Regions from separate parts of the Homo sapiens genome. Here region 1 is linked to region 2. A link means that fine-mapping ties the variant in region 2 to the expression of a gene that starts in the linked region. Tissue or cell type: skeletal muscle. Region 2 holds a variant in brackets; the other region holds the start of a gene. All regions are shown on one strand. Distances are from middle to middle.

What was found. PIP is the estimated chance that this variant, and not a neighbour inherited with it, causes the effect.
Region 1: it holds the start of OLFM1, and the variant in region 2 is fine-mapped to the expression of OLFM1 in skeletal muscle (GTEx, PIP 0.92).

Annotation. Positions count from the first base shown.
Region 1 is chr9:135,085,983-135,088,874 of GRCh38, forward strand. OLFM1 (olfactomedin 1) reads left to right here and starts at 1,686. Exons shown (of 6, transcript NM_001282611.2): 1 at 1,686-2,157. The coding sequence starts at 2,008. RefSeq lists enhancers at 1-846, 847-1,707, 2,342-2,892.
Region 2 is chr9:135,123,613-135,126,504 of GRCh38, forward strand. No RefSeq gene overlaps it. Among named protein-coding and RNA genes, the nearest start is that of OLFM1, 37 kb to the left of the region's middle. RefSeq lists an enhancer at 2,524-2,892. The variant C/T (reference allele first, on the strand shown) is at 1,218.

The sequences.
Region 1 (2,892 bases), 38 kb before region 2:
GCTTCTGAGATGGCCTGACAGTTTTGTGGATTGGATTGGGTTGCATTTGAATTTGTTCCCGCAGAACAAGTGGTCCTTGTCCTTCCGCAGCGGGAAGCGGCGTGAGTGATCTGGACAGACACGGCTTGTGGCCTTGAATCGGTGTTAAACATGCATGGCCAGAGGAGGGGGGCGAAGCCAGCCCAACCGGACTTGTGTCTCCGCCTGGGCCCAGTCTGTGAGCCGGGCCTGCAGTCCCAGCTTACACTGGGAGATGGCGCCCTTCCCCAACAGTTGGAATTTCCTGGCATCCGACCCAGCCCGGCTGCCTGAGATTACAGCATTAATCAGAAAAGCAGATCTGAGGGGCTCATTTAACTAGCGGGTCTCACACCCAGCACTCAGGCCAGGATCATCTTGGCTGCAGCTGAAGTCTCTTCAGCCGAGGACTGCGCACACAGAGAGAAAAGCCCCAGGAAGGCGTTGTTCCTCTCAGGCGGGCGCCAGGGAGGCGCGCTCCTTCCGGCCCGGCGTCCGTCTTTCAAATCCCATCCAGGAAGGGAGATTAATTTTCGCCCAGGCAGAGAAGAGTGTAGTGAGTGATCTGGAGGATTCTTTCCTTCCCAAATGGCTGGGAAAGCTTAATGGAAGGCCCCGGAGGAAGTGGCTTTCATCTCCGATTAGAAGCCTTCTGTAAATGCAAAAGCCCTATTAACGTGTTTGACCCAGTCAGGCCTGCGCTTCAGGTGGGACTGACACGCGTGAGTCCTGCTGCGGTCGCCGCAGAGGGCCGGGAAGAGGGGCAGCGTGCGCCACTTGCCCTGCCTCTGTGCCTGGGCGCCATGACTCGAGCGCCACCCCTGAGTCAGTAAGGACACCCCCCAACCCACACCCCTCCACCACAGACCCCAGTCCCCGCCCCACACACCCACCTCCCCAACACCAGGTTCATGGGCGTGGTCCCTTCAGCTCCTGAGGTCCAGGCCTGAGCCCCAGACCTTATGCAGCTCCTGCCGGGTGTGCGCCCTCCCAGGGCCCTCACTGCGCACCGCGGGCCACGGCAGACCACCCCAGCCCCCGCCTTGCTGTGCAGGTGTCAGGAGTGCCGGTTGGCTCCCTTCCTCCCAAGCAAGGCCTTAGGGCACCGCGGCTGCCCTGGGATCGCAGGGGCGCCTTTAGCTCTCCACCGATGCCCCGACGCCCCCCTGGCGCTGGAGGCCCTCGCGAGTCTGGCTGCTTTTCGGAGCCTGCCCTGCCTGCTGGGTTTCAGGCGACGGCCCAGGCTGGCTGGGACCCTCGAATCACCGCGGAAAAGGGCTCCAGTAGGCAGGACGGCGCCGTCTCTCTGCCGGCAACCTTTGCCCCAAAGCGGACCCTCTGCGGGGATCGGAGAGGGATGCCCCGGCGTGAGGATGGGAGAAGCCCCGGGACGGGAGGGCCGCGGGCCGTGCCCCCAGCTGGAGTCCCCGCGCCGCCGCCGGGTATTTTATGATCTGGGGGTGGTGGTGTGTCCGTCTCCTCATGTCACCCTGATCCCAACTCCTGGGCGGACTGGAGTTTGCAGACCTCGCTGCCAGCAGCCAGGGGGCGGCGGGGAGCCGAGCGAGAGGAAAAATCCACCCATTTCCTGGGCGGATTGCGTCGGTCCCGCCCGGCCGAGCCCCGCCTCCCGGCCGCGGCCCCCGCGCGCAGCCCGCGCAGCGCTCAGAGCCGGACGGCGCTTCCCGGTGGCGGCGGAGGAGCCCGGAGGGACGCAGCCGGGCAAGGCAGGGCGCAGGGCGGGCGGCGCGAGGCGCAGGGCGCGGCGGGCAGAGGCCACCTGGCCACCTTCCCTGGCGCCCGGGGAAGGCGCGGCGATGGCCGGGGCGCGCGGGGCGGCGGCGGCGGCGGGCGGGCGGCGGCGGGCCGAGGGGGCGCGGGGACACAGCCAGGCGCCCCTGCCCGCCGCGGTGCCCGCCGCCTGAAGGCCGCCTGGGCGCGGGAGCCGGTGCCAGCTCGGAGCGGGCGCTGGAGGCAGCTCGAGGCGCGATGTCGGTGCCGCTGCTCAAGATCGGGGTCGTGCTGAGCACCATGGCCATGATCACTAACTGGATGTCCCAGACGCTGCCCTCGCTGGTGGGCCTCAACACCACCAAGCTCTCGGCGGCCGGCGGCGGGACGCTGGACCGCAGCACCGGCGTAAGTGCGCCCGCCGGCCGCCTTGGCGCGGCTCCTCCTCCTCCTCCTCCTCCCCCTCCTCGGTCCGGAGCCCCGGGCTGGGCGGGCGCCGCGCGGGACCCGAGTCGCCCAGGGAGGCGGCGGGGAGCAGGGCGGGCAAGGGCAGGCGTCGCGGGCCGGCGCAGCGGTGGCGACCCTGCTCCCCGCTCCCCCAGCCTGGGCCACTCCATCTCCGCCCGCGCGCCCCTGGGGCGGCGTTTCCTTCGTCTGGGCCCCTCGCCGCGGGGCCGGGGGAGCTTGGTGGGTTCTCGGAGGCTTGGAGTCCTGGGTCAGTAATCATGAGCCCCCCATTGAAAAGGTTAGGAAACTAAGGCTGGGGACTTGGGGACTTGTCCAAGGTCACACTCAGCGAGTGAGGGGTGGAGCCGCCGCTAGACCCTAGTCTGGGCTCGGTCCAGCGGGGACTGAGCCCGCCCTAGTTTGTAAAAGCCAGACTGGCCGGACCGGGCTGGGAGTGGGGCCCCAGCCGGTGGGCTCCGGAGCTCCTGCCCGCGCCTGCATTCCCAAAGTCCCAAGGCGCCCTTTCCTCCCCAGTCCATAGGAGGGTTTGTTCCTTCTCCTCCGAGGACGGTGCCGAGGGGCTTGGGTGGGGCCCCTGGGAGCCTGCCCTTGGGCGCTCACCCCCTCGCCTTTGCCTTCGTCTTCTGCGCGCACCCCTCCCTCCTGGCCTCTGAAATTGAAATCGCGTCTCCCTCT
Region 2 (2,892 bases):
CTGGCAGTTATTCGCAATACACAGAGGCCAGAGCAAGAGACAGTTCTGTTTGCAGCTGGGTCTGAAATTCTCCTAATTTCCAGAGGGAAGCCTGTGACTGTTGGTCCCACAGCTCCCCATCGAATCCTCCCCTGGCCCTGTCAGAGCTGCAGGTGCTCAGGTAGCACTTGGTGGGGGAAACAGAAGATGTGGGCGGCTCTGCTCTCTGAACCAGTGAGCAGGAGGGGTTGGCTCTGGGTAGGCGGCTCTGGGTGAGGTGCTCTGTCTCAACAATCCTTGGGAAGTGCTGGGTGGACAGCCAGTGCCCAGCTCTGTTCTTGGAAGGGATCCAGAAATGAAAGGCACTGTTATTTCCATAGCTGAACACTCTGGAACAGCCAACAGTCAGCAAGCCAGGTGACGTCGGGGCAGGTACTGAGCACAAACGGGCCCATTGTCTCAGCCCGAGGGACTCTTCAACCCAGAAACCCTTAGGTCATCTAGTCGTAGTCCATAAAGCTGTGGAGTGTGAAAATGTTTTTTATTGGAACATTTCACCTAATTCCCTTTGAAAGCAGCAAGTGGGCTAGGCACAATGGCTCATGCCTGTAATCCCAGCACTTTGGGAGGCTGAGGCGGGCAGATCACAAGGTCAGGAGCTCGAGACCAGCCTGACCAACATGGTGAAACCTGGTCTGTACTAAAAATACAAAAATTAGCCGGGCGTGGTGCGGTATGCCTGTAATCCCAGCTACTCGGGAGGCTGAGGCAGGAGAATTGGTTGAACCCGGGAGGTGAAGTTTGCAGTGAGCTGAGATCGCACCACTACACTCCAGCCTGGGCAAGACAGCAAGCAAGCAAGCAAACAAGCGAGAGAGAGAGAGGAAGGAAGGAAGGAAGGAAGGAAGGAAGGAAGGAAGGAAGGAAGGAAGGAAGGAAGGAAAGAAGGAAGGAAGGAAGGAAGGAAGGGGCAGGGGAAGGGAAGAAAGGAAGGAAGGAAGGAAGGAAGGAAGAAAGAAAGAAAGAAAGAGAAAGGAAGAAAAGAAAGAAGAAAGAAAGAAAAAGGAAAGAAAGAAAAAGGAAAGAAAGAAAGAAGAAAGAAAGAAAGAAACAAAGAAAGAAAGAAAGAAAGAAAGAAAGAAAGAAAGGAAGGAAGGAAGGAAGGAAGAAAGAAAGGAAGTGGTGGCTTGGAGCAGATAATACCTGGATGCCACGCCCCCGGCAACCCTTGGACCTCA[C/T]CGCCCCGTTGAAGAGGCGTCATGCCCCATGCTAGATGGAAAAAAGTCAGGCTCTGAGACACCAGCAATTTCCCCGGGCCACTGGGCTTCCAACCCAGAGTCTACAAGATGAGCACAGCCCAACATGGAGAAGGGTCTAGGACAGCAGTTGAAGCTTGGAGATCAGCTGAGCCTGCGATTTGGGACAGCAGACAGTTCCTAGTGCTCAAGGGGGACCGGGAGGCAGAGGAATTGGGTCAGCTCCTGGTCCAGCCTCCTATAAGGCCTGGCCAGTGAGTAATTTTGCCTCTGTTTCCATCCTCAGGGGGGTGAGGTGGAAGGGAGCCATCATTCAGGGCAGCGGGGAGGACTGACTCTGTTTTCTGTGAACTTTCAGTTCCTATCTTCTGCCTATTGTTTTCTATTCAGTTGTTGGTCTTACTTTCTCAAATTTTGGGAGTTCTTTCTATGTGTGGAAAGTCAGCCTTTGTGATTCTGTGGTCTGAGGTGCACATATTGTCTAGTCTGTCATTTGTCTCCTGATGTTGGTTATGTGTTGTGTGTGTGTCTGTGTGTGTGTTTGAGTGTAGTCAGGGTTATCTATCATCCTTGTGATGCTTGTGGCTTCGGGGTTGGAGTTAGGGCCGCCTTCCCCAACGTGATCCCTGCTTCTCTTGGTTCTTGCAAAGTCTGTCTGTTTACCCTGGGGCTGTCCATGCCCTGGCTTTGATAGTGTGAAGTGTGGAACCAGTTTCATCTTCTTCCAAAGGCTGCTCCTTGGCCCCAATGCTATTTGTTAAATGGCCCAACTTGCTCCCCTGGACCCTTTGTCCTGGGGTCCATCCCTGGGCCCTCCTCTCCCTGGGTATGTGCTGGCCTCTGTGTCCAGAAGGCAAAAGGACCCATGGACTCACCTGAGCAGGGGATTTTTCACAGGCAACCACCTTGCACACTTCCTATATGGTTTTTTAATTCTTAATTTTTAAAATTATTTTTATTTTTATTATTATTTTTTTTGAGACAGGCTCTTGCTCTGTCGCCCAGACTGGAGTGCAGTCGTGCAATCCCGGCTCACTGCAACCTCCACCTCTTGGGTTCAAGCAATTCTGCCTCAGCCTCCTGAGTAGCTGGGATTACAGGCAAGCACCACCATGCCTGGCTAATTTTGTGTGTGTGTGTGTGTGTGTGTTTTGTTTTGTTTTTTGTTTTGTTTTTTTCTAGTTGAGACAGGGTTTCACCATGTTGGCCAGAATGATCTTGAACTCCTGACCTCAAGTGATCCATCTGCCTCGGGCTCCCAACGTGCTGGGATTACAGGTGTGAGCCACTGCACCTGGTCCCTGGATTGTTTTATAAAGTGATCTCTGAGTAGCTTATAAACCATGATGCTTAACCCCTGTGATTGTCAGGCCCTACTCCAGGAAGCATCTGGAAACCTGAGCACCATCTTTTGCCTTCACCAGTGTTGTTGGGTCAATAAAGACCATGGTGACTCCGGGGTGCTGTGTCTCTCGGACACAGTTCTTGTTGTTCTAAACCAAGTGCCTAACTCCAGAGACGCTGCCAGGATTCTAAGGCAAGGTGAGGTCTTGTCTTCGGAAGGATCTTTCAGGGAAACCCTCACCCCACAGGGTGCTGTGTGACCTCCGTCTTACAGAAATAGACACGGGGAGATTACGCAGCAGCCCAGGCCCAC